Homo sapiens: one gene and its partners. The protein of the gene in region 1 purifies or fractionates together with the protein of each later gene. This does not show direct contact. Each region holds a gene or a part of one and is shown in the gene's direction. Other genes may lie near its edges.

The links.
Region 2: the proteins of BCL11B (region 1) and ARID5B purify together in Homo sapiens (affinity purification with mass spectrometry; one large-scale study listed by BioGRID and IntAct). This does not show direct contact.
Region 3: the proteins of BCL11B (region 1) and TAL1 purify together in Homo sapiens (co-immunoprecipitation; one study listed by IntAct). This does not show direct contact.
Region 4: the proteins of BCL11B (region 1) and TCF7 purify together in Homo sapiens (affinity purification with mass spectrometry; one large-scale study listed by BioGRID and IntAct). This does not show direct contact.
Region 5: the proteins of BCL11B (region 1) and CCNJ purify together in Homo sapiens (affinity purification with mass spectrometry; one large-scale study listed by BioGRID and IntAct). This does not show direct contact.

The regions. Positions count from the first base shown.
Region 1 is NC_000014.9:99,261,299-99,267,187, reverse strand, and holds part of BCL11B (B-cell lymphoma/leukemia 11B), read left to right. Parts: intron 1-5,889. UniProt on the Homo sapiens protein: Key regulator of both differentiation and survival of T-lymphocytes during thymocyte development in mammals.
Region 2 is NC_000010.11:61,900,439-61,904,498, forward strand, and holds the start of ARID5B (AT-rich interactive domain-containing protein 5B), read left to right. Parts: upstream 1-1,260; 5' UTR 1,261-1,271; coding exon 1,272-1,292; intron 1,293-1,720; coding exon 1,721-1,975; intron 1,976-4,060. UniProt on the Homo sapiens protein: Transcription coactivator that binds to the 5'-AATA[CT]-3' core sequence and plays a key role in adipogenesis and liver development.
Region 3 is NC_000001.11:47,214,488-47,220,094, reverse strand, and holds the end of TAL1 (T-cell acute lymphocytic leukemia protein 1), read left to right. Parts: coding exon 1-375; 3' UTR 376-3,804; downstream 3,805-5,607. UniProt on the Homo sapiens protein: Implicated in the genesis of hemopoietic malignancies. It may play an important role in hemopoietic differentiation. Serves as a positive regulator of erythroid differentiation.
Region 4 is NC_000005.10:134,116,371-134,122,259, forward strand, and holds part of TCF7 (transcription factor 7), read left to right. Parts: intron 1-5,889. UniProt on the Homo sapiens protein: Transcriptional activator involved in T-cell lymphocyte differentiation. Necessary for the survival of CD4(+) CD8(+) immature thymocytes. Isoforms lacking the N-terminal CTNNB1 binding domain cannot fulfill this role.
Region 5 is NC_000010.11:96,040,902-96,047,416, forward strand, and holds the start of CCNJ (cyclin-J), read left to right. Parts: upstream 1-2,681; 5' UTR 2,682-2,818; exon of another isoform or gene 2,819-3,348; coding exon of another isoform or gene 3,349-3,492; coding exon 3,493-3,561; intron 3,562-6,515.

The DNA.
Region 1 (5,889 bases):
CATTTCTGAAGTGCTGGGGTGAATGCAGTTGCTTTTGTGAAGCCGGCCTTAGAGACATCGAGGCTGGGTTAGCTGGTTGGGTGTGTTGTGTCAGTGACCAGTGTGGAGGGCTAAGTGGGTCCTACTCAACCCAAGGGAAGCCCAACTTTGGGTGCATTTGAGAATAATTAGAATTGTGTCTCAGGTGAGACGGAAGCACAGAAAACAGTCGTTTACAGATACCAGTTTCTAGCGCCTTCTCAGAATGGAGTTCTTGGCACTGTCTTATAGCTTAGAACACGGCTTGCACCAGCCTTCACTTATCCCCTTTTCATCTCCTATCTCGATTGCTTTGCATTCTCTGTTGCTTGTTGTGATAAAATACTTTCCAAAATAAACTTTCAGTTGAATTGGCTTTTGGTTGATGGCAAGCTGAAACGCCGAGCCGCGCCTAGCGCCACTTGGCAGCTAGGGGGAGCTCGGTGCCCGTGTCATGGCTTGGCGCCTCCGCTACAATGGGCTAGGAACGGGCTTCCATCAGCAGCGGCGGCAGTTTACGTTGCTGCAAAATACCTTAAGTGTGAAGTTGTAATATTGATTTTCCAGCAGAGATTCGTGCAGGACAAAATGAGAATATAAGTTTGAGAAATCTATTTTCAAGCTATCGCCATTGATTTACAAGCCCTCACTTGGCAGATGGGGGCATTTTCTTTTTCTTTGATTTTCTTTCTTTCTTTTTTAACAATTAAAATTGTGAGTTTTGAATGGGTGTGTTTTCCCTGATTCGTCCGTGGTCTTGACGTTCTGAAAATTCTGCTGCGTTATTAAGGCGCTGGTGATCGGGCTGGGGAGGTCTGGGGAAGGCGTACTGCTCATTTCTGTCTTGCATGTCACAGACCCAGGGAACAGTCGAGAGTTGCTGCTTTTGGGAGTCGTGTACCTAAAACAGCTTGATGAATGGAAATCCTTTTAGCTCAAATTTTATGACACTTGGATTCTCAATTCCATTTATTAGGTAATGTTCCCACTGAACTAAGGGAAATAGCACCGTTCCCCAAAGATTTAAAATGCCGACTCAAATAACATGTAAAACTTTGTTTGGAAAGAGTATGTGATTGCTAGAGCCAGTCTTGATCACATCTTTCACCCCAAACAGTTGTCCTTTATGGATGGCTTTTAATGAGAGGATTTCTCCCCTAAACATGTAATCTAGTGATGGGGAATATATGTGCTTTTGATCATAGGATTTCTAGATTTATAATGTCTTCTTTCCCAAGTTGAAGAAATCTGCAGACTGCACCCTGAGTCTTATGCTAGAGTTCAATATATGAGCAGAAGAGGTTACCCTGCGACAGGAAAGAGTGCTTTATTCTAACCTGAAAGAGAAATAAATTAGGTCAGACAAAAGCCTAGCGCTGTCGTCAGCTGGAGAAAGAGCCTTCACTCTCCAGTACACAGGGCCAGCAATTTATCTGATGATTTCTCTACTTCATTTAATGTTTGAATCGAGCCAGTTGTAAGCATGTAGTGGCAGCGAGCTCACTGGACCACTCAGAGATGAAGAGGCACGGTGACCTCGAAGTCTTGGGCCGGACGGTGGTCTCTGAGCTGCAGAAAACCGTTAAAAATCAGTTTAGCAATCTCCAATCCTTTGCCTTAGAACTCAGGGGAGTTTCACAAGCTGTAACTAAACACAGATCATAGATAAGACAATGCAGGAAAAAATATATGGGGGAGGGAATGGGAGGGGGTCAGGTTCTTGTCCGTTGGAGACTCTCCTTCATCTCCCATGGCTTAAGGATGGACCTTCTGGCTGCCTGGTTAGGCCTCACCTTTAGCTGAAACTCTCCAAAGACTTTGGCCTCGAGGTTAATGTTGGCTTCACATCTGGGGAGGACAAGGAGAAAGTAAATGGTCTTTGGGGACTGTACCCTGCACCACATGGTTGAGTTATTGATACCGGCTGAGCATCTTTCTCTGAAGACGGTGTTAGCTGTAGATACACTTTTGTATTTATTAATGGGGAAGGGTACAGAAGACACTAGGAATGAATGTCTGTGTCATCCAGCTGCCGTGAGTATGCTTTGTCACTTTGCGGCACTCTTTTGACTCAGGCCATTTGGCCTGAGGTCCTGTGCGGCACTCTTTTGACTCAGGCCATTTGGCCTGAGGTCCTGTGTGCTCTGTCCTGTCCCTACTCCCTGATCCCACTCAGCTTCCTTCCGGTCCCAGGGAGCCAAATGTCAGGGAGATGTGCTCAGGCTCGGTCCCCCTCTTGCTCCATCCCTCCCCAAGAAACGCCGTGTGCTGACTGCCTCCCTTGAGCAAGTATGTTTCCCAGGGCGTGGGTAAAAAGTGCCGAGAGCAGGCTATTTGGAGACGCGTGGAAAGAGAAGGACACATTTCTTGCGTCTTCTGCACAAGCCAGTGAGGAGGGTGAGCAGAGCAGCCTTGTTTTTTGCTGGCAAAAGTGACACTAGATGGAGGCTTGATGAATGGTGCCACATTCACGGGATGTTGGTCCAGCATTTTGACATATGCTAGTCTTTTGTGCAGTTGCTGAAAATCAAGAAATTCATTCTTTTTTCTTTTTCTTGTGGCAGCTGATAATTTGCTTGGGTGTTGAATAGCCAGCCTGAGCTATTTTACTGTAATGAAATCCCAGACCACACAAAATTAAGTCACTTCAAAGTAAAAAAAGAAAAAAAAAATCCTCTCTTTTACATAACTTCTTTTTTATGGCCCCCTTCCACTTATTTTATTGAAATACAAATAAATACATTTGTGAAATGTTCTAATGAGTTTTCTACTAAAACAACACGCAGAAATGACTCAAGAAAAGTTGAGTGCCAATATTATTGTGATTAACATGTGCCTCAGAAATGGATGCACTGCTAAGAATTAAAAAAAAGGGGGGGGGCGGTGTCATGTTTAAATTCCTACCTTGGAAAAGAGATGTCGAAAGCACTCCTGCCCTTGCTATTTGCTGTTGGCCTCAGATAATCCAAACTCCTCCAGCTAAAGCCTTGAGGTCCAGTGTCCTGTGTGGAAGCCCTTCTTTTCTTCCGCACCTTTGAAAAAAGCATAATGTTAAATAAAAACAAATCTCTTCATTTGCCCACAAAGAGTGCTTTTTTATCACATCGTTAGGAGCCCGTTGTGGCTCTGAAGATTGAAGGCATTTGCAGTTTTATAGAACCTGCTAAATGTGTTGAGAAGGATTGCTATTGTGGTAAATCTTTTCCTTTTCTTTTTCTTTAAAGCGCCTATTTTATTTGTCAAGACTTTTATTTGTAACCTTTTAGTAATGGCTGAGACCTGTGAATATACCTGAGTATGTTTTCCTTATTCACTTGTTCTTTTTTCTGCTCTTGTGCTGGGGAGACCCAGGCTCCTGGGCTCAGTTTTTGGGGTTCTGGAGAGGTGTGTGCATTATTCTTTTTTCTGCTCTTGTGCTGGGGAGACCCAGACTCCTGGGCTCAGTTTTTGGGGTTCTGGAGAGGTGTGTGCAGTGGGGGAGAGAAGGCGGTTGGACTCCATAGAGCAACTGAGGATATTTTTCAGGGAGCTGCTTAAGCATCCTAAAATTAGGCTGGAGTCCTGCAAACAATCTGTACACAGGGAGACCCTCCCCAAACATTCGACTTTCCCGCCTGGAGTCTGTAGACCAGAAGGTATGGGAGTGAGCCTCTTCCTGCATCTAAAACCTCTTCACGGATCTGGAGTTTCCACCTCCTGGCCTGCAGGCCAGGCCCAAAGTTTCCGCTGCTGGCGGAGTCAGCGGGACCCTGGTCATTTTCCTGGGAAGCCCACACTGGGAAGCATGTTTTGCACCGGCCGCCTTCCCTTGCTCTCCCTCTCACATGTCAGAAACGGCGATCGAGGTGTGTGCCTCAGCTGAGGAGGGGCAGACAGGACCTCATGGGGTGGTGGCTGTGGTATGTATCTGTCCCTCCAGGGAGGCAGCCTTTGGAGGGTGTCAGGAGGGTGCAGAGCTGACCTGGAGCAGGCTGGACTCCTCTGACTGTCTGCTGAGAGGGTCGAGGGTCAGGACAGAGAGGTGTGATCTGGGTCTTGCTTCCTGCTTCAGACTCCGCCTGGCTGTGCCTTCCCAGGGTCCCCACCCCCAACTTGTGTCCTAATAACCCTTCGAGACCCCCTGTGGACATCCTCCTGACACCAGCCTCCCTCTTATCTCCATTTCCTTCTCTGCCAGGCACTTCATTATTCCCTCCGTTAGGGGAACTTCATAAAATCTCTTGTCGTGCCTTTAAGCGTCATCTAGTCATAGATTATTTTCTCCACCAAGAATTGATTCCTGCTCTCTCCCCCTCCACCCTTCTCCTCCCCCCTCCCTACGGTTGTTATTTTCTCTTGGATCCAATAAATTAAAAATGGATGGCAGCTCAGAAAGTGTTGTGCTCCGTCGAGTGTGCGTGTGGTGGCGTTTCCGTGTCGCCTGGAGTCCCAGCCCCTCCCCAAGTGTTCACGGAGAGGAGATGAAAAGATCTCTTCGTAGATTATGGGTAAGCATGGGCTCGCTGGCAAGAGCTCCCTCTTCGTAGGAAGCAGGTGTAAAGTCTCCAGTCGGATGCAGAGCTCGGGCGGATGGATGCTGAACATTTCTTGTAAACATGCGTACACATCATGATGGCGGTTGTGACGTTGGTGGCACACGATTTTAAGAGCCTGGGACCCATCCCCCCACATCCTTCCCTTTCCCACCCCCGTCATCACTGAAACAATAATTCTGTGTATGTTTCTCCTGGACTGTAGCTTAGCCATTAAAGATAAGAGAGTTGGATTTGAATTAATGCAGGGTAAGGAGGAGCAGCAGCCCACGTACTGTGTATGTAGCAATGCACATGTGTGTGTGCAGGCAGCCACGCACATGCCTGTGCTCTGGGGACAGCAGGCAGCAGACCTCTCGGCTGGAGTTCCCCTAAGGGCAGGTGCATGGGCAGTTGTTAGAGATGGGCCAGGGAGGGCGGGGTCCTTGGCACCCTGTGTGTGGGGGAGTCACTGGCCAGGTAAGGCCCTGCTGAAAGCTTGCAGCTGCTGGGGGCTTGTTGGCTGCTTGGCTGGGCCTGTGTTAACGATGTCTTTCCATTTCTTTCTTCTGACTCAAATTCCTTCCCAGCAAAGCCGAGGCATGGGGAAGTTTGTCTTGGGATCAAGTGCTTCCCCTTTCACTTAACAACGATGTCCATTATTATTTGTGATTGCTTCTAAATGCATTTACCAGCTGGGAGGAGGCCTGGCCTTGTAAATAAAATGTGGTTTTGTTGTAAAAGAAAATCTAACTCGTGTGTTTGTGTGTGTGTGTGTGTAAATACAGATTTGTCCCTGCACTTTAGGATTTAGCATTTCAGAATCCGCCTCAGCCCTCTGATATCTGCCTTTCGAACAAGTTGTCTGCTGCATCCATTCATTTTTCCTCTTAATGAGTCAAACATTTCAGCAATTGCTCTACTTTATTCGGCTCATAATATATTGAGAGCAGCAATATTCTGCAGGGCTGCCCGACACTTGGGGAGCTTTTCATGAAAGCAGAGATCATCTCAGAGGAAAACCTCATCTTGGCTTTATTTTTTTAAGGCCCGAGTTTGCTGGACAAGGCTGCATGAGGGGCTGGCCTGTAGGGTCTGGGAATTTGAAAGACTGTTTTCATTGGTCTTTTTCCTGGTGCTTTTTCGTCTCTGGGTGGCAGGTTGGACCACTCTGCCTGTTAGAACAGAGGCCTGGCTCTCTGAGGCTGTGCAGAGCCGGGAGACTCAGGTGTCCATAGGGCAGAGAAAGAGGGGTGTCACTTTGCCCTTCCCAGGGCTTGGCTTTCTCCTTTTATTTCTTCCATTATCGATACAGTTCTAAGGAGGGACACATGCACACATATGCAGGCACCCTACACGC
Region 2 (4,060 bases), on another chromosome or scaffold:
TCTTAAGTTTCTCTGTGTTTGCATAATAGCCGTGCATGCAAACCTCGCAATGCTCCAGGGCTCCAGAACAATAAATATACACATTTAAAGCCTTTATTGTCTTACGGTTCATGCCCCCGGTTTTCAACAGCTTAATTTCTGGTTGTATTTAACTAGTTTGCAAATGGATTTTTTCAGTTTCAAACTATTATTGAGGAAGCTCCCCTCCCTTTTTTGGCGGGGGAGGGGATGGGGGTGGGGTAGGAGTCGGTATATTATTCCTGTAGCGCTGGGTTATATAAACACATTATCATTTGAGAGCGCCCTTGGCGTCCATCAGCATTGTAAACACGTACTAGTGTATATACTTCAAAATTAAAGAATGCACACGCAGAACCGGGAGCCTGAATTCATATTCTGAGCAGACTCGCTTCTCGCATTTATTGATTTATCATGCATCGTTTATTGTTCCAGTCCCTAAATGCAGTCGCTGTCCGTTCAATATTGTTTGCGAAATCCTAAGATGTGTGTGCACTGCTCACTTGTCTCTTTTTTTTTTGCTGAGTATTTTTTTGCGAAGCGAACAAATGCATTAATATTTATATGTTTATATAATCGATAACCCACTTTTCCCTTCCATGTAAATAGGCATCAAAAGATAATTTAACAGATTAGTTCTCGAAAACATGGCAGTGAGGAAGCGTAATTTAACTATCAAACAAATCTACATGTCTAATAACAGCAAATCTGCTAAGAAGCATTAGAAAGAGGAGCAGCGCCCCGGAATCTCTGCAGGAAATGTTCTTTATATTAGACATATACAAGCAGGTCCTGTCAGATGCACAGTGGAGCTCGCTACCCCTCCTCTCCTCCAAAAATCTCATCAGACGATATCCCAGACAGGAGCGGTTAGAGAGAGAGGAATCACATCTCCACACAGTTTTAGGGTGCTTTTTATTTTTACAAATCTTCTTGTGTGTTTTTTGCCTTGATCCATCCTCTTCCCGCCGAGATCGTATGGCGCCTTTCTCTCGATTATGAATTTGATCAATCCATCTTTGGAAGAAAACCCACATAGTTTTTTCAGGAGCTGAAAATTGAGTCGTTATAGAAATATTAGGACATATTTTCAATCATTTCGGTGCCCGAAGGGAGGCAAGAGCTCAGTTTTATATTGAGACATTACGCCGGCTGAAGGCAGAGAATGCGTTTCCCTGCCAGGACCTGATGCAATCCATTCAAGCCAACAAGTTTGGAGAGAATGTTGAGTTCAATCAATTCAGAACGTCGAGATGGAGCCCAACTCACTCCAGGTATTTCGCTCTCCTCCGCTCCTCCGATCCCGGCACCCCCCGGCACCCCCCAACCCCCCAGCTCACCCACACCTCTGCACCCACCCACACCCCCCACAAACTTTTCACCAAACTTTTACCCTCTGCATCCCCCAAAATCATTTTTATTGTTTAAAAAAATCCCTGCACTGATCATACATACATAATGTAATTTTACCGCCTCAAATGGGGAGGTGGGTAGAAGTGGCGGTGGGGGGCCCTGAGTTTTTTTTTTTTTTTTTTTAGGGAAGCAGAAAATTTGTGGGTGCTATTATTTTTCCACCCAGCGTTATATCTGTTGGGTCGTCTGTATTAAGAGAGTGGATGTCTGTGTGTAAATGTGTCTGGGAATAGATGTTTGTGCTCTGATGGCTACATTATTTATTTGGTGTTTTTTTCCCCCCCTGCAGTGGGTCGGCTCACCGTGTGGCTTGCACGGACCTTACATTTTCTACAAGGCTTTTCAATTCCACCTTGAAGGCAAACCAAGAATTTTGTCCCTTGGCGACTTTTTCTTTGTAAGATGTACGCCAAAGGATCCGATTTGCATAGCGGAGCTCCAGCTGTTGTGGGAAGAGAGGACCAGCCGGCAACTTTTATCCAGCTCTAAACTTTATTTCCTCCCAGAAGACACTCCCCAGGGCAGAAATAGCGACCATGGCGAGGTGGTAAACCTGTCTGTCCCCCTCTTCTTTCTTTATTATTTTTCCCCCTAGTAATGCTTATTACAGGGCAAGCTTGAAAATACTGTATTCACTTCTGCAGGCAAGCAGGATCGACTCCTTTTTTAAAGGGGTAGCGCCACTAGCTGGGGCTCGAGTATTTTGCCATTGTCAGAGTTTGGCTGTCAGCTTTACAAAGAGGATCCAACTGCTGATTTTAGTCAAGATCAAATAACTTGTTCGAGAAGGGTTTTGTTCAAGGATGTGTGTGTGTGTGTGTGTGTGTGTGTGTATGTGTGTGTGTGTGTTCATTTGCTCTCCTGCTATTGCCTCTTGAACATCACATGCTTTTTATATTTTTTGCCTTTTGAAAATTTACCTTCGTGTCTGGCTCGGTCGTGTCTGGGTGGATTTCTTTCGGTGGGTTTCGATATTGTTCTTTTTTCAAAGTAAGTATTTGATATGTTTAAGAGGGCGGAAATTACGAAATGGAGGCAGAATGAGATCAAAAGCTATTGAGTTGGCAAAGACGTGTTGAATAAAGTGATAAATGACAGGTACTGGAATAATACATTCAAATAACTTGCAGATCTGCCCGGGCGGATTTCAAAGCGGTGGTGTAACAGGCACAAACACGTTAAGCATTAACAACTATCTCTCGCCCACTCCCCCTCCCCCCGGACAAGCCATTTGATGTTCTAGTTTGCAATTACTCCACGCAAAGTGGACGTCCTCCTGCGCGATCTTTGGGGGTGTGTGGGACGGGGGCGGGGGAGGGGAGGGCAGAGGGGTGTGTGCTCGCCCACTGGCCCTGCGGGTCCAGCGTTCTCCGTGCCCAGACGGCGCTCCCGGGGAGGGCGGGGAGGGGACAGAGCCTCCCCGGCACGTTTCTGGGCGGCCGCGGGGGCGCTCGCCGCGCTCCCGGGAGGACGCCGGAGGTGAGCCCGCTGTCACTGGGCGCCGGGGCGGCCGCCTCCCTTCGGCTCTGTCATTTCATGTGTGACCGCAGTTCTGCGGGCTCCCCTCCTCAGCTGACCGACCTCAGCGCCGTGGTACCTACCGAGGGGAACTATTTTGGGGAGTCTGTGCCCACGGCGCAGCGGGGAGGGAGGGCGCACTGCCGCCTGGCGAGGCTTTGTGTTGCCAAAGCGAGAGCAGGGTAATCAAACAGACTTTTGAGGGCAGCTAGTGCTGTGCCAGGCTCTCGAGCTTTCGAGGTAGGTGTAAGGATCTAAGGATCTTTTTGTTAAATGAATGGTTTCCCGTTTAACTCATCCCGGGGCTCGGAGCTGCCAGTCCTTCCAGAATTCCTCGGTTTGATCGAGTTGATAGTACTTTTGGCATTGCTAGTTCACTCCCTCTCCCCAGGATCGAATTACTCGTCAGTGGTCTATGCCGGTTAATTACTGGAGTTCGTCGAAACGTTCGCCCTCGAATCTGCCTTTTCGGAAATAAGCCCCTCCCACCTCCCCGCTCACCTCCCCCCTCCACCCTCCCCGGCCAGCTTTGGTTTTTAAATGTTCATATTTCCCGACGTCCGCCTGCAATTTTAAAAAGGTGTTGTTTGGAAATACTGTGAAAAATCCTGCAACCTACCAACAGGTTGAGCTCTTTCCCCCTCCCAAGGTCTGGCTCGGCCCCCTCCCCCGACCCAACTTTCCTGCGCAGCTGTCTTCCTCCCCCTCCCTCTCCCCCTCCTGATTTCTTATTATTTGCTTTTCAAATTTATTACTTCAACATGGCCTGTGATCTGGAAAAGGGAAGGATTAAATATCCAGAAAAGAACTGGTGCTTAACAGACTTCTGACTAAGTCCAGGAGGAAATTATTCAGTGTTTTATGGGATATTTTGTGGTCACTCTTTTTTGGGGGGCGGGGAATTGAAATTGGGATGTTTTTTAAAGACCCTGAGTTGACCCCACTTGGTACAGTTTTAATTTTTGTTGGTGTAATTAAATGGTGAATTCTGATTTAAGAATAAAGGCTATATTTGCCAAACGTTGCATCTGCTAGAAGTGTTGACAGTGAATAGATATATTTTTAAATACACGATTTCTTTTTAATTGTTCATTATGGGGAATTGAAAGGG
Region 3 (5,607 bases), on another chromosome or scaffold:
GCCGAGCTCCGCAAGCTGATCCCCACACATCCCCCGGACAAGAAGCTCAGCAAGAATGAGATCCTCCGCCTGGCCATGAAGTATATCAACTTCTTGGCCAAGCTGCTCAATGACCAGGAGGAGGAGGGCACCCAGCGGGCCAAGACTGGCAAGGACCCTGTGGTGGGGGCTGGTGGGGGTGGAGGTGGGGGAGGGGGCGGCGCGCCCCCAGATGACCTCCTGCAAGACGTGCTTTCCCCCAACTCCAGCTGCGGCAGCTCCCTGGATGGGGCAGCCAGCCCGGACAGCTACACGGAGGAGCCCGCGCCCAAGCACACGGCCCGCAGCCTCCATCCTGCCATGCTGCCTGCCGCCGATGGAGCCGGCCCTCGGTGATGGGTCTGGGCCACCAGGATCAGCCAGGAGGGCGTTCTTAGGCTGCTGGGATGGTGGGCTTCAGGGCAGGTGGGGTGAGAATTGGGCGGCTCTGAAGCAAGGCGGTGGACTTGAACTTTCCTGGATGTCTGAACTTTGGGAAGCCTTTACTGACCCTGGGGCTGGCTTTTCTGTTTCCTGTACCAGTAGGAGATCAGAAAAATGGAGCAAAGTGGTAGGTACTTTTTGTGAAGACGGCACGGTCTTCCCTCTTCCCTCAGTCCCAAATCCTTCCCAAGTAAGAGGCTGGAGTTGTCACTGCTTTTGGCCTGGAGTTTGGGATCCCTGTCTTTCCTAAGACCTGGGGTTGTCAGCTCTCATCTGAGGCATCCAGCAGTCTCTGCCTTGCCTTTAGCCCCTCCCAAGCTGGCTGGGGTGGCCTGTGTGGCCACTTCTGTCCATATTTATAGGTACCCAATAGCTGCCCATTTCGTGAGCCCCATCTTCACCCAGGCCTATGTTGATCCATCCAGCTTGCCAGATGCTGCAGAGTCACAAGCCTCGAGGTGCCTTCTTCAGGGCCTGGTTGAAGAAGATGATCAGTGGACAGTCTGCTCTAGATGAGCTGGGCCGGAGGGTCAGGAAACCCAGTCGCCCTTACTTCTTGCCCTGGGGATCAAAGTTCTGCTTTCTCCCCAATGAGACTTGCCTTCCTAAGCCTGTGGCTGTGGAGACAATGTCTGCAGCCCTGAGAAAGCCCTGTCGGGCTTTGTGTGAAGGCAGAGAAAGGGACAATGATAGTAGAGTGATATGGAGCAAGAGATATTTTGGGCATGTGGGCTTCAACTCCTCGACATCACTGTTCATGCTGGCGAGTGAATGCCAGTGTGCTGATGGGCGTACGCTGGTGCTGAGTAGATGCGCAGCCCCATCTGTGCATTCTCCTGGATGCTTAGAGGGATTTCTTTGCTGTAAGATGTCTGTTTGCTGATGGTCTGGTCTATGTTCCGAATTGAGCACAAAACCTGTCCTATGAATGCTTTGCATTTGGAATTTTTGCTTGACTTCAGTTATTGGTGGAATCTTTAGCGCTCAATAGGACCAGGATCCAGCCTCACTTCTAGGGTATGGGAAATCCAATCAGAGACCAGGCCCTGGCTAAGACCCAAACATATGCACATTCACTTAGCAGAACCTTAAACACCCCTCAGTTGTGCAGCTTTTGGTCATCAAGGGTGCGTCTGGGAGGTTGGTTTAATGCAATAGAAGTGCTCCCCTCTGAAAGTTGTACATGAAATTTTTGTAAATCACATCCTTATCCTTCATCTTTTAAAGAAATAACCACTGCAAGTCCTTTTGTAAAGTGAAGAATCCTTTTGTAGAATGAACCACTGCCCCTTCATTGATTTCCTGTGTCAATCCAGATGGTGGGATGTGGTTTTCTTAAGGTGAGGCCTGTCTGTGACCTGCATCTAAGCCCATGGGACAAATTGCACAGAAGTCCTGTATGTCTGTCATTGTACCCTTAAGTCACCCTAGCCCTCTCCCTCTAGGCTCTGCCTTCGAGGTCAGAGGAGAGATAGCCTGTGGCCCTGTCCTGCCATGCAAGAACTCATCACTGTGGCTGTCTGGAAAGCCCCCCCTTATAGTTTGGGCTTCAGCCTAGTGGCTTGTCCTCACCATGATGGGGCCCTAATTCAGCCATGTACAGACAGAGAATATGTCTGCTCCTTTCCCCTTCCTTTTAAGTAAGGTCCAATTCTCGAGCTTGGGGCAACATTGTTCACCTTTGTAGCACTCAGGCTCTCCATTCAATTTCAGGCTCCCCAGATCATGTTTTGGTGAAAATTAGGGTTGGTTCCTTTCCAACGTTTGGAAGATCCTGTGAGGAGCCCCATCTGTCTAAAGATAGAGTCATTGCTGTAGGATCTAAGGCTGTTTGCTTCACCGTGGATTCGCTTGAGTTAGGAATGAGAAGTAGCCACAGTATGGATGGGTGGATGGGTTTTATGAGATGGATCACATATTTTATTAAGAACTCAAACTTCTGGCTCCCTCTTCTTTCAGACTTGCCATGTGACTCTGGCTTGGCCTATCTCCTAGGGCTATGGTGTGGACTGAATGGGATCATGAAAGTAGACAGTTTTGAGAACGTAAAGAACTTTTTCTTTTCCCTCAATCTCAATCCTGCAGTGGGGTTTCGCAGCCTGAGTCCACGACCTAGGCAGTAGGCCGGTGTGCCTGACTGCCCAGCATTTGGGTAATTTAGATTGTAAACCGCTTTGGCCTGAGTTATTGAGATTGTCCTCATTTCTCCAGATTATCTATTTGTGTGTGTGTGTGTGTGTGTGTGAGAGACGGTGTCTTGTTCTGTCACTCAGGCTGGAGTACAGTGGTGCCATCATTGCTGTCTGCAGCCTTGAACTCTGGGCTCAAGCAATCCTCTCACCTCAGCCTCCCGAGTAGGGAGGACCACAGGTGTGAGCCACCACACCTGGCTAATTTTTACTTTTTTTTTTTTTTGGTAGAGATGGAGTCTTGCTATATTGCCCAGGCTGGTCTTGAAGTCCTGGCTTCAGGCAATTCTCCTGCCTTTGCCTCCAGAAGCACTGGGATCACAGGTGTCAGCCATTGCACCCAGCCCAGATTGTCTTAATTTCTATCTTGTTCCAAGGCCAGGGACAGTAATAAGAATGGAAAAGAGATATGGGAACACTGGCAGACTGTGTAAAATGTAATGCAACTACCCAAAACAAGCCTGGTAGGAAAGGGCAAGTCTTTAGGTCTTTGTAAGAACTAAAGAAGATCTGTAATTTTTATTTTCACCCTCTGTACCCCATGACCTTATCCTTCCTCTCCTTCCTTGTTACCCATGAAAAACTGGCAACATTCCAAGAATAGCATCTGTACAAAGGGGAAAGAACATAAAGGTAAAACAAAACAAAACAACATTTTGAGAACAAAGATGACCATAACCACTGAAGGGAATCACATCTTTTAAGACAAATTCATATTCTTTTATTTGTTATGGCAGATGACAAGATGGTACAACCTTTATTCTTTTCCAAAATAAAACAAAGGGCACAGCATCTGTAGTCAGCCGACAACTATTTCGGCCTTTTGGGGGTGGGTCTGGCCGTACTTGTGATTTCGATGGTACGTGACCCTCTGCTGAAGACTTGCCCCCTGCCCGTGTACATAGTGCATTGTTTCTGTGGGCGGGCCCAGCACTTTCCGTCAACGTTGTACTGTATGTGATGAATTGCGTTGGTCTCTGCATTTTTCTGCAGAAGAGGAGTAACCGCTCCAGGTACCTTGACCTTTGTACAGCCCAGAGGCCAACACTGTGGGTGTGTGACTCTTTAGCAAAAAAAACCCATGTGGTGATGATGTGTATATATATGTGAGGATGTATCGGGAAGATTTCTAAATAAAAGTTTTACAAAGGGGCCTTAGGACTCTGTGCTTGCATTGCACCCCTAGGCCTGAGACGGGATATTGAAAGAAAAGTCATGGCAAGAACCTGTTTCTCCTGACATGGGGAGCCTCCAAGACTCAGCTGTAGTCTTAGGAAGTGGGATTCCACCCTCAACCCTGAAGGCAGGCCTGGTGGGGAGGAGACAGCCTTCCTCCCCAGGGTTTCCATTCTTTCTCTCCACAGGCCTCATAGAGGGGGCCTGTCCCCTTGGCTTCATGCACCCATGCTTGTATCTCAGGAAGCCTCAGCAGACATCCCCTCTTTGTGTTGGGGTGAGCTTCCATGGCTGGGACAGTTGTATGTATCCTAGGTTCAGGACAGATTAAGGCCATACCATAGGAGGGCCCCAGGTTCCCTGATGACTCAACGGCTGCAGCGGCGGCTGCAGCTCTTATGCCTGGCTCTTAAGGATTGGGGACTCAGAGATGAAGTCTGAAGGTAATGGAAGTCGAGAGTGGAGGCTCTGTGGCAGGCTCCATATCATCTGGGAGGACTTCCCTGGAGGCTCAGGAATGGAAATGTGGTTTAGATGATACAACCCTTATTCTTTTCCAAAAATAAAACAAAGGGCACAGCACCTGGGTCTGGGGGAAGCCACTGCATGTGGACCATTTGATCCTCAGGGATTTCAGTAGGTCATGCAGGCACTTCTAATGAAGTATCATGCCTTCCTTTCTTTCTTTCATTTATTTATATATTTTTTCAAGATATGGGATCTTGCTTCTTCTAGCCTTTGCCCAGGCTGATCTTGAACTGAGCTCAGGAGTTCAAGGGCCATCAAGGTGAAAAAGAAACAAAAGGTGCAAAAACCAGAAGGTTTTTGTCTCAGTCCCTTGAGTAGTTAGGACTACAGCATGTGGAACTGGCACCCTGTTTCATTTAACAAATATTTATTGAGCATCTAGTATGGGCCTGGTATTGTTCTACGTACCGGGGATCCCACACTGAATAAAACAAAGATCCCTGTTCTTGTTCTGGTGGAGCTTAACTTCTAGCAGGGGAGACGGTAAACACACAGACACACACAACTGTAATAAATATGTTGATTCTGTAGTAAGTTACAAAGTGATTAGTATTAAGAAAAAAGTTGTGCCAAGAGGTGAGTTCAAGGACCTCACAGATAACTCTGGCTTTTTTGGGGTGAGCCTTGTTCATCTTGCTAGGCTCTGACTTGGCTGCTCTTGTCCTCAGGGTGCTTCCAACCACAGATAGGAGGGCAGAGGCAGGGTAGTCCTTGGGGACCATGCTCTGCCCTGTAGAGAAGCTCCTTGGTTTTTGGAAGCTCCCAGGTGTGCCTCTCCCTGGCACAGGACAAGGAGGTACCTGGGATGATAGGATGGTGAGATTTAGCCGTGGGGTGAGCTGGCTGTGGATCTCAGCAGTGGTGGTGTTGGCCTGGTCTGTGCTCACAGGTGAGAGGAGCAGTATGAGGAAGGGACCTGTGGTTAAGGGCTTGAGGGAGAGAAATGAGAAAGAGCAATCAGAGAGGAAGGAGAAAAACAGAGAGTGTGCTGTTTTAGAGACTGTGGCGTTTCAGAGGAAAAGGGTGAGGGAAGTGGTTAGGCAAGTCCAGCGCAGCTGAGTGGTCAGGCAAGAAAGGCCTGCAAGTGTTGATTGGATTTAGCAATATGGAGGTCACTGATGACTTGGATGACAGTGACACCAGGGGAGGGATAGAGGCAGAAGCCTCACTGTCCTGGACTAAAGAATGGGAAGAGAGGAGCACCATTTCCAGAAGGATTTTTCCCAGGAGAGGGCAAGGCATTCCACGCTGA
Region 4 (5,889 bases), on another chromosome or scaffold:
CTGATCTGAGCTCAGAGCTTTGCAATTAACTTTCTAACTAGCCCAGGAAACCCTGAGCCTCCTTGGCGCTTGGAGGAATGGGCAGGAAAGCTGATCTGTTCAGGTCCCCTGGTTGTGCAGGAGAAACGTGCTGTGTTCGGTCGGCTGTGTCCTGACGGGCGTGAGTGTACCGTTGCCAAAGAAGGACCCTGAACACCATGTGTGGAAAGTGGGTTCTTAGGAAACTGGCTTGGTCTCAGACATACCAGGAAGGGTTGGCAAAGGTGCTACAAATCAGTGATGTTGAGAAGGGACCAGTTTAATTAATTCGTGAATTAAATATTTTTAAGTCCCAGTGCTTTGAAAAGATTTCATGATCTTTACAAACCATGCCCATTGGTACAGATGACCTAAAGTGTGAAGAGCCTATTCTGAGTGTTTTGGAGCAGTACAGCTGCGCTTTTAAAGAAATTCCTATTCGTGTTTCACACTCTCCTCAGTTGGTCCAAGTTGGGGTGAAGGTACGTGGAAGGTTTGGAGGACTGTGGTAAGTGAGTGTTGGGTGTGAATGTAAGCCCAGTGCAGGTGGGGCTGGCAGGCTGGAGGCTCGCATGGCTACAGTGGGGTCACCAGAGGGAGGAGAGTTAAGTGCTAGGCTATTTCAGACCAGGAGTGAAGAGGGTGGTTCTGAGAGCTGCTGCATGCCAAGCCAGTGGGAATGAGAAGACATATAGGCTTCTTTCCAGAAGCCTAGGCTGGAAAGCCTATTCTATGGCTAGCTCTAGAAATGAGCTCCTTGCCCTTTGGGCCCTTATCTGTAAAATGAGTATGTTTTTCGAGTAGTCTCTGTATCCGACTTTCTGCTCTGGGGTGGCTTGGTATATGAGGTGGTTCACTTCCTTCCAAGTCTGTGAGATGGGGGGTGTGCCCCCCAGCATTCCCCCGCTGATGTAGTGACTACATCCAGAGAACTCACCCTGTGTGAGCCCATGCTTAACAAAGATGCGTTTTGGATCCCTACAAGATGTAAATAAACCCTTAGATTTGGGACTAGGTTGACATAACCCACCAGTGCCAAACTTCCAACAGGTGTGCCACTTGCATAGGGGCTGGGGTCACCGTGGAACCATGATTAGACAAAAGGCCTAGGCCCAAGGCTCTACTCCAGCCTCCCGGGGCTCCACAGCAGCACAGGGAAAAGGCTTCCTTTCGGAGGTCATCTCATGGTGTGGGCAAGTGCTGGGAGAGTATCTGGAGCAGGGAGGGCTTCGTTCTGCTGTCAGGGTATGGGTGATGGGACCATTTGGTGTCCTTTGGGCCACATGGGTCAAGAGTAGGCTCTAACAGGACAGTGGAGGAGGCACACCACCACTGGCCTGGGTCATTTATTTTTCACCTTTCAGTCTTTCTCAAGCTACAGCAGATACATTTCTATGTATCGCACCTGCTCCTATAGGTACAAATCCCCTTGCCCTCCTCCCCGCGCAGCCACAGTCTCCACTGTCTGGCTTCTGGCCACACAGGAGGAGGAAAAGGACGGGCTGTGACACTGGCTCTCTGTGCCCTGGCCTCAGCTGCTCTGTGGGGCTGCAGAAAAGGACAGAGGCAGAGGTGTAAGTTGGAGTGACACTCAGTGAGGAAGCTGTATGTGAATGTAGGAGAACCTCTTTTAAGCAAACCTGCCAGTTATAAACACATAGCAAGTCAGAGCATTTGCTTGCATTACCTGAAGACGTGTGGGCATTGAAAATGTGGTTGGGTTTTACCAAGCAAAGTGAATCCACCCCCACATTTTAGAAGCATATTTATTATTGGATTCAAGGTTCATGTGTCTGGAACCAGGAATGATCTTCTTTTCTTGGGTCAGGAGCCCCTTGCAAGGGCCCTGAGGAAAAACTGCCTTTGGAAGATTTTTCCAAAGCTGGTCACTTTCCCAAGCCCATCTTTAAAGGACAGACAGCTTGCTGCTCAGGCCCTGCCACAGGCCTTAGATCCAGGCCCCCTTGCCCTTTGCCCGGCCCTCTCTGAGGGCACCTATGTGGTCAACACTTATGCTGAGAGGCTTGAGGCCAGTCATTGCACCTCCCTCAAGAGCAGGGAAAGCCTATACCAGGGACCTGCTCTGCCCATGTGTGGGTAGGATGCCCATGTGGCTACTGTGTTAGAGACCTCAAAACAGGCCAGCTCGAACCTTGCCCGGAGCAATAGGCTGAATGACCACCCCACAGCCAACTGCCACGGGACACATTTTTTTTTTTCTTCCAAAAAGGTTCCTTCTTTTTGGTAGTTGGCTTCTTTTAAGCTTGTTTGAGGAAGAAAAAATTAGGTCAAAGTTTATTCCATGAACACTGTCAGGCACCTGATTGATGTAGGCTTGCAGGCAGTTACTGGCCTAGACCAGTAACCAGGGTTTTTTTGTTTTGTTTTGTGTTTGTGTTTGTGTTTTTTTAGAGACAAGGTCTCACTCTGTTGCCCAGGCTGGAGTGCAGTGGTGTGATCTTGGCTCACTGCAGCCTCAAACTCCTGGGCTCAAGCCATCCTCCCACCTCAGCCTTCTGAGTAGCTGGGACTACAGGTATGCACTACAATGCCCGGCTAAGTTTGTTTTTGTTTCTGTAGCAATGGGTCTCACTGTGTTGCCTGGACTTTGGTTTGGTTTTCTCTGCTCTGCTCTGAGACCTGAAAGTAGGTGGAGGTGGTGAGTGGGGAGATAGTGAGCTGATCTTAGGCTGTACTTTGGGGGGATTCTGGGATGGGTAAGGCATCATTCCTTAGGCAAACTCAGGCTCAAACTCAGTGTAGTCAGTCTTGTCATATCCAAAATTGATATGAGGCTGCATTGAGCTGTGGCTTCTTCTATGAGCTCTACTTGGAGTCTGTAGCTTAGACAGATGCCGAGCCTTTTGCCATTTTGATGAAATATCCAGAATAGACACATCCATAGAGACAGAAAGAGGATTAGTGCTTGCCAGGGGCTGACGGAAGAGGGGCCCAGGGAGCGACTGCTAATGGGTATGGAGATACTTTCTGGGGTGATGAATAGGTTCTGGAATTAGATCGTGGTGGCAGCTGCACAATCTTATGAATATACTAAAAGCCACTGAATTACATAACCTTTAAAACAGTGTATTTTATGATATGTGAATTACATCTCAAATTAAATAAAAAGGCTGAGGCCTTTGGCTGTTGCAGACTTGGGGCCATGTGTCCCTGTCCCTGATCTCCACAGTTGTCCAGGTGCCTGGGGATGCCCCAAGCCAGGGGGTCAGGCATCAGGTGTCAGGTCCAGCAGAAGGAGCCTCACTGAGGCAGTGGACTCATGTTGGGGCTCCCGGCAGGTCCAGAGCGTGCCTGGGGGAGCAGGAGGTGAGGGTATGAGCAAGGCTCCAGCAGAGGAAGGAAGTGCTGCTGATGCACGGCCAGCCTGTCCGAGGAGCTTTGCAGAGATGCATAGGTGCAGGAGCACCCACCGGCCTCCACACGCCCCAGAGCGAGCTGTGGGCCTTGCTGGGAAGCGTCAGTTATTGGTGTTGAGCACCAGCCCTGGTTGCAGTGAAGCCTGTTAGGAGGGAATTTGGCACCAAGCTTGGTACCAGGTACTGGGCCCCCAGACTGGAACCAGGCTCTACCCCGGGAGTGCCCAGCTGAGCCGAGGAGACAGATAGAGACCTGAAGCAGAGCTGGCGAGAGGAGCGCTGTCACTGAGGTGTCCCGGGCAGAGCCGGCCCCAGCCCTGGCTGTGAAGGGGGGCCCACTGAGGAGCACTCTGAAGGCCACAGGGTGTCCAACAGATGAAGACAGAGGAGGGACTGGCAGGCCCCAGGCTTCCCTCTGAACACATCCCAAACCTCCCCACTACTCTGCAGTCAGCACCCAAAGCCCCAGTCATCGCCATCTCTCACCCAGACAGCAGCAACAGCGTCCAGGGGACCCCTCCCTCACCCCTAACCCCCATCCTAAATCACAGTCCAGGCTTCACGTAGCAGCCACAGGGGGCCTTTAAAAACAGAGTCAGATCACATCTCTCACCTGATGAGACCCCGCATCAGCTTCCCATTGCTCTTGCAGTGAAGTCGAAGCCACTCATCACAGCCGAGTGCCTGGGTGGCCCCCGCCAGCCGCCCCTCATCACCTGCACCAGCCTCTTGCTGTCTCCCTGACAGCAGTCCCCTCCCTGTCCTAGGGGGTCTTACAGCCAGCAACTTCTTTCCACCCCAGGACTCTTGCACTGCTTCCCTCCGCTCGGAAGTCTCTTCCCCAGCCCTGCACATAGCCGCCACCTTCTCGTTCCTCACTCAGGGCTCAATTCAGATGTCTCTGCCTCAGGGAGCCTCCTCTGACCATTCCCAGTAGGACCCTCCTCATCCCTTGGCTCCAGCTGCCTTGCCAGCCCTGGCAACTCTTCGGGCTCAAACGGTTGGCACTGCTTTACAATGCACTCACCATGCTTAACCCTAAGAAAGGCCGGCTGTTCGTTTCCTCCTCTGCACAATGGGAGTGGTGAGCCCTCCTCCCAGATTTGGAGTGAGGACCAGCAGCAGTGCCAGGGAGGGGCCCAGGGAGGTGCCAGTGCGGCCTGGCCAGGGGGAGTCAGCCATGACTGAACCCTTGTCCCTTGCTGGCCTGGCTCCCCTGGGGCCAGTGGTTGCTCAGTTGTGGGCCCCACGTGGACTTGGGCACGGAGGGGTCTGGAGGTCTGAACCCTGGGACTGGGGACTCAGGTGTACAGGCCGCCTACTTACTGCCCTGCCTGACCCAGGATTCTTAGGAGGGGAAAGTGCTATCCCTGGGGCCAGGCAGGGAGCCACAGCCACTCACTGCATTCTCAGAATTCTATCCTACCACCCCAAAGATTGACCTGAAAGAGACTCCCCTTCCTCAGTCATGTAGAAGTCCTTTACATGAGATGTTAGAAGCTTAAGCTGTTTTGTTTCAAAAAAAAAAAAAAGATTGGCTGGGTGCGGTGGCTCATGCCTGTAATCCCAGCGCTTTGGGAGGCCAAGGTGGGTGGATCATTTGAGGTTAGGAGTTCAAGACCAGCCTGGCCAACACGGTAAAACCGGGTCTCTACTAAAAATACAAAAATTAGCCGGGCATGGTGGCACACGCCTGTAATCCCAGCTACTCTACTCAGGAGGCTGAGGCAGGAGAATCGCTTGAACCCGGGAGGTGGAGGTTGCAGTGAACCAAGATTGCGCCACTGCACTCCAGCCTGGGCAACAGAACCAGACTCCTCAAAAAAAAAAAAAAAAATGCAAAAAACCCTCATGGCCATCAGCCTGGGAAGCCGTGGCCACCCTGTGCGTGCCCCTCATTCTTGCCACGATGCCACAGGTGTGGGCAGCCTCCTTGCTTGCAGCCTCCCCTGTGGCTCTGGCTTGCTCCCGGGCTGCCTTCTTTCCCAGTGTGAATGATGTTCTGTACACATCACTCTTTCGTTTCCACCTTGACTATTTTCCTGAAGCATAATACCCAAACAGAATTATGGGGTCAAGAGGCAGGAAGAGTCGAGGCGTTTTGCTTCCCTGGTGCCCCAGTGCGCTGTAGGTTCTGAGCTGTGAGTGTCCCATGCTTACAGTGGCTCAGCACAGCTGATATGGAGTTCTGCCTTTGTTGCTCTGCATTGAATAGGTTTGTGGTGGGCAGTGCGACTGTGAGCTATTTTGAATTACCTTTCTTTCCTTGGAAGGCTGCGTAGTATTGGCTATCACATTTGGAAAATCTGCAGCCTCTTTTCTGCTGCTTCCAAGGTGGGACTTTGAGGGTGGCTCCCTCAAAGCCTTGATGCCTTTCAAAACCAGGAGAGCACCATGAAGGGGGCCGATCCTGCAGACCCCTGGTTAGAGCCAGGCTTCCTGCCCCACCCTGTCCTGGGGTCAGGGAGGGATGGCCGGGAATTTAGGGCGGTTT
Region 5 (6,515 bases), on another chromosome or scaffold:
AGGGAGGGAAAGAAACTTGCTAGTCACTGTATAGTCTTCTATGGCTTGAAATCTTCTAGCTTTTTCATGCATTCATTTAAAAAACTTAAACAATTAAAAAATCAGTGCTTTTCCACGGCGTAAAGTTCTGTGAGTTACAGAAGATTTCCAGAGAATCTGGTCCCACCTCATCTCTTGTCAAATCTACCTGTGCCTTATGCTGCAGTCACAAAGGACTCTGCAGTTTCCCTATTCTGCCCTTTATATAGATGTTCTGCCTTTTTTACTTCCATTCTTTCATACCATTGGTGATCAGTGCTTCCTTGACTTAGAACGTCTTTCCTATCTCCTCTTCACTCCAGACATACAGTGGCCTCTATTTTCATTCCAAACATGCCTTCACTTTAGAGTCTTTGCGTGTACCAATTCCCTCGGCCTGGAATGCTCAGCCACCTGATACGTACCTACTCTCTCACTTCCCTCAGGCCTTTGCATGCCTTACCTTATCATGAAACAAAGTCCACCCATTTCTTTTTTTTTTTTTTTTTTCCGAGACACAGTCTGGCTCTGTCACCCAGGCTGGAGTATAGTGGCGCGATCTCGGCTCACTGCAACCACCGCCTCCCGGGCTCAAGCAATTCTTCTGCCTCAGCCTACCGAGTAGCTGGGATTATAGGCGCCCACCACCACACCTGGCTAATTTTTGTATTTTTAGTAGATACGGGGTTTCACCATGTTGGCCAGGCTGTTCTCGAACTCTCGACCTTAGGTAATCTGCTGGCCTCAGCCTCCCAAAGTGATGGGATTACAGGCATGAGCCACCACACCCAGCCCACCCATGGTCACTTTCTAGCCTTTTTTTCTGTTTATTTTTCTTCACATCACTTGTCACCATGTGATATGTTTTTTTGTTGTTGTTCATTGTATCTCTATTTCTAGTGGAATAAAAACTCTATGAGAGCAGAGACTTTAGGAGTTAAGTAAATACCTTAACTGTGTCCACCTTGCTCTAAAGGAATTAAATAAATCATAGTAAGTTTGAACTTTGCATTTTAAGGATTTACTATCTAAGACACACTATGGCAAAATATATGTGTAAAATGAACATTAATCCATAAAAGGAAATGGACATTGAAGTCTTCTCATCACAAGGCAAGTCCAGAAAACAATAATGATTTCTGAACAAATATATCCCAGTGAACAATATTTTCAAAGTAGAAGCGATAAATACAGTCTACTTCTTATACTAATGATTATAGTCTGTGCCCCATTTTTCTGAAAGTGTTCTTAAATAGGCCCTGGACAGTTATTTAGAAGCCAAATTATTATAAAGTTGTTTAATAGTCATGAAATGGAACCCAAGGATGTAGACACTATTTAAATGCCATTAAAAATGGCATGAAGCTTTTAGCCTGATGTGTCTACCTTCACTCTAGAGGACCCTGCAACTGAGAGACAGGCCAGGGCAGCCTTCTCCCTGGACTATGTCGGGTTAGGCCGGGATCTGCCAACTTCAGCTTCTGAGTTTCCCTTTTCTTGCCTTTGGTTCCTGCGGGCCTGCTCTCCTGGGTATAAGCATCGTCTATGGATAGGGTACGGCTCATATACATGTCTGCTGATGATCTTCAAATGAAGATGCCACCCAGAATCACATAAAATGTATTTATCACTTTGTAGTAGTTCTTTATCATCATGTATCTTTTTGGACAAAGGATTCAAAGTAAAAGGGGTGAAGTTTTAAAAATATTTACGTTTTACTATTAAGAGATTGATCTCCAGTCTCAGAAAAGTGGACAGTCTCACTGTCCTAGGGTTACCATCCACCTCTTTTGTGATAATCCACCAAAGAGGTTAAAATACAATTGATTAGGTTTCCTCTAATCACATTTCAGCCCCCATATCACCTCAATTGACGTCGGAGTGTTCTCACAGTTTTGCAGTTTCCTGATTTACGAGCACAGATGGTTAATTACATCCACCATGGGTTTGACAAGCAAGGTTACTAGAAGTAATCTTAAATGTCTTCATTCAAAGCTCTTGGGAATCCCTACAGCAACGAAAATAAGGAGGGGGAAGAGATTAATTAGGTTTCTAGAAGAAAGGTGGAGTTTGAGGTGGAACTTAAAAAAAGAGCATAATTTCACAGGAAAAAAAAAACGCTTCAGGGGCTGCAGAAACAGCTAAAGCACATTTGGAGGGCCTGATGATCCACGGAGCAGCCCCTGGGATGGAAGCGGTTGGTGCAACGTGAAGTAAGGTAAACCGAATCCATGCCGTGAAGACTTTTAAACGCCAAACTGAGGCGTCGGAACTTTGCTCCGCGGGCATCGAGGAGCCATCGAAGGTTCTCAGCAGGTGAGTGGCCTAACTGGATTGGTCACTGCAGTGATCCACCTTACAATTTCTCCGGCGCTCTCTGCCGACCTCAGCCGGCGATCAGGCCGGCTTCGCAGTAGGTGGCGGCTGAGCGCCCCGGCAACCGAAGCGCCAGGCCAGCCCAGGCCACGCCGCGCCGTGCGGGATGCTGACCGTACCCAGGCGGGAGCCGCCGCGCCGCCGCCTGGCGCTGCACCTGGGCCCGGCCCGGCCGCCAATTGGACGGCTCGGGGCGACCCCGCTGTATCGCGAGACGAGATTGGCAGCGGCGGGGCCTCAAGTGCCCCCGCGCTGGCTTTGTATGCGGAGCCGCCTGCCGGTCCTTTAACAATGGGCGGCGCGAGCGTCCAGGCGCTGGGCTCTAGCTGAGGCCGGCGCTTAGCGGCCCACTGTCCGCAGCATGAGCGGGGCCGGCGTCCGCCGCACGACGGCGGGGCTGGGGCTGTGAGGGCCGCGGTTCCGGGTAAGGGAGCCAGCGTGGGGCCGGGCGGCCCGGCAGGCCTGGGGTAGGCGTGGGGCAGCGGACCCTCCCGGGGTGAGGCGCAGAGCCTGGCTGGCCCGGCCTTTTGTTCCCCTTTCTGAGGCCGCGCGGAACGTGCGTTTCTCGGGGCTCCCGGGGAGGAGCAGGCTCCCGACGTCCATGCGGAGACCCGCGGCCAGGCAGACGCTCACCCCCGGGCTTTGCCATGGGAGCGTTTCCCCTCAGCGGGGCTATGAGCGTGTCACCTCTCCCCGCTCCTCAGGGAGGGCGGGAGAACTCCAGCCCCGGACGCAGGGAGCCCCAGCCGGGCCTCCCCCAGCTCTTCCCGAGCTCGCACCTGGCTCCGCGCTTTGGCAACTCAGGGCCCGAGTGGATCCCCTTTTGCCCGACACATAGTCGAGCAGTGAGTCTCAGAGTCCTTCGGCTCTTCCTGCGGGGGCAGACCCGGCTTCGCGTGTGGCGTTGGGGGAAACGACTCGGGTCGGGCTGGGTTGAGGAAGAGTCAAGTGAAGATGAGCAGCCACACCGGGTGGCCTGAGGTCACACCCCCCGGGGAGGGGGCGCAGAGGGTCGCGGGGGAGCCGGCAGTGACCGCGCCTGGGGTGTGTCTTACAGACTCGAGTTGCCGCGTCGGGCTGGGCGCGCCGCCGGGTCCCATGGAGCTGGAGGGGCAGTGGTGGCGAGGACAGCTGGCCGCCGATATTCACCAAGCGCTTCGCTACAAGGTAACTCCGAGGCCCGGCCTGCCTTCTCCTTCTGTGTGTCGCGCCAGTTGTTCTGAATCTCGGCTCTCTAGAAGGTCTAGTCAGGTTCTTTACTCACTATCTTCCGGGCCAGAAAAGGCGAGTTTGCTCATTTGCTCAAGGTTAATTAACTTCTTGGCTCCTTCTCTGGGATGTATCAAAAGAACCTGCAACCTGAATGAGTAGGGAGATGGTAGTTGGGCCAGGGAAGGTGGAAAGGGGCGTTCTGGCTTCCAGGTGGGTCATGAATTTGATCTTGTATTTTAAAAGATATATACACTGAATTTTTGTTGGGCAGAACAGCCCTCTTTGTTCGAGAGTTGCCGTTGCATGCAGCCAGTTTAAGTCGCTTTTGTACATAAATTCCTCAGCCTTTCCGCTAACTTGCCGTGAGACGTGGACAAGTGAAATTTCTGTTTCTTGATTTCCTCATCTGTAAAATGAGGAATAATGAGTGTGCCTTATGATTCTGGCGATTGTGAAACTTAAGTTAGTACCGTACATGTGCTTAGAAACTGCTCTTGGTATATAGTAAGCACTAAGTGATAACTTCTTATCACTTACCCCTCAGGATTTGGGCTGTTCAAAAGCCCTAAAGTGGAGGGAGTTGGCTGCCCCTTCCTGCTGATATCAAAGGCAGAAAGTAGACTTAATAGATATTGGAAAAAAATACTTTTCCAACACAAAGCAAAGTCTGTGTATTGTTGCTATTAAGTAACGGTTTTACTCTGCATGTGGCAAGGCAGATTAATGAGACATTTCTGCCTCTTCGATAACCAAAAGAGAGACCAGATCCAAAATGATCTCTAGCTTAACTCAGTTTCACCTTGGATAAAGAAAGCCATTTGTTAAATGTAGAAAATTGAGAAAGAAGCAAAACAGCTGACTTTCAATAAAAAGGATTCTGACTCTTGGGGTTGAGATCCTGGAATGATAATGAACTTTTATCTTGAGTTTCTGACCAGGTCAAGTAGATTGGAAAACCTAATTCTGACTTAAATTGTTACCCTTTTCTAGGCCTGAGATTTCTAAATGCTACTTAACTAATTCTGACATTCAGTCTCTTAGATTCACTAAAATACAGTTCAGCCCCCTAGGAGATGGTTTATACCACATAAAAATTCTAACTAATGGGATCTCTGGAGTGTTAGTTAGGAAAGAGTTGCAGTTTCTTGGAAAATTGTCCAGATACACTTTTGATCTTTTTTTTTTTTGGCAGATGTCATCTTTCAATGTGAAATGTTTTCTTTTTTAAAAAAATTAATATAGTTGCACATATTTTGAAAAGTGTTTTAAGTGTCAGCCTTTTTATCCCTCTGGTATGTAGTGAAATTAATTAGTTGATATTAAGAGTACTTTTTTTTTGAGTTGGAGTTTCACCTGACCTCAGGTGATCCACCTGCCTCGGCCTCCTAAAGTGCTGGGATTACAGGCATGAGCCACTGCGCCCAGCCAAGAGTATATTTTTTAATTGGCATGAAACTTAAAAGGTTTTTCTTGGTGATTTCCATACTTTTCAATCATTTTATGTGTAGATCATTTTAATTCGTGAGTGATTATCTGCATTTTGTCAATTGAGTTTGGACATGGGTTCTTTGTTTTTTTGTTTTTTCTCCTAGATTTAGATTTGTTGAAGGCTTTTGTGGATTAGTTTCTGGAGCATCCAAGGCATAAGACCCAACCTTATACTCACTCAAGTTGCTTATGAACTATCAGAGGACAAGGTAGCACAGGGTGTGAAGGAATGCCACTGAAAGTTTTATTGGGCCACCTATGGCCTACTGCCCTGGGTTGTCTTTATGTTTAAGCATTATGCAAACCATGGTTCTTACTGGCAACACTTTATACAAGAATTTACATTAATCTGTAAAACTTAAACTTGTGGAACTGGAGAGACCACTGTTTGTAATACACTGAAGGAAACTTAAAATGGACTTTTCTCCTAGAAAAGACGTGGTAATTCCAGGCTATTAATTGGTGATTCAGTCGGATAGTCATCTGTTTTTCTTCAACATGTTGATCATTTATGACATACATGATATCATGCCAGGTGTTAGAGCAATAACAGTGAACGAGACATGATCCTTGCCTTCATAGTCTAACCTTATCTATAATTTAGAGCATCCACATTTAGGTCTTCCTTTGGGCAGTTGCCATTGAGATACTGCAGAAGGTATTCTATGTTTAGGCCCTAGGTTTGTGGAGAAATATTTGGTGTGACTAGCATTGTGTTTACTAGGGAAGAGTGAAAATGACAATGAATGGAAATCATGCCAACTATCCACTCCCTCAAAAAACCCCTACAAAGCAGCTGTCACCTTACACCCTTTTGTCTCCTTTCTTCTCATTATTTTGCTGTGTATAGTTAGTGTCATAGGCTGTTTGGGAAAGTGTTTTTAGGAGCCTTAATGACAAATGGGAACAATTCTAGCTTTGTGAGAAACATTAAGAAAGTGAAGTCCATCAGTGTTTTCCAGGTGTTTCCAGGGAGTCTTTAAGACCATGTTCAGGCCACTTTTTGGGAAAACCTGCTCTGGTTTTGCCTTTTTTCCCCAACTCCCTAATCCCTGAGCTAAGTTAGATTTTCTTCCTAGGTGTTGCCATAATAACCTGTGGTGACTATATTGTGTGATAAGCTCTGTATTTGATTCACCTGCTAGAGATAGGCTTGAGACTGTTTTTCCAGCTTTTATGCCTGGGTTAGTATAGTGTCTGCTGCATGGGAGATGCTCAATAAATGTCACATGGTGGCAGCAAAGGTAAAGTTGCAACTCACTTACACCATTGTAAAGATCCAAAGAAAGAGTTAAGGAGAAAAGAAAAATCCTAGGAACTACATGAGAAATCGGCATCTTCCCTTTATGTGGAAAAAAAAAATTTTTTTGGCCAGGCATGGTGGCTCACACCTGTAATCTCAACACTTTGGGAGGCTGAAA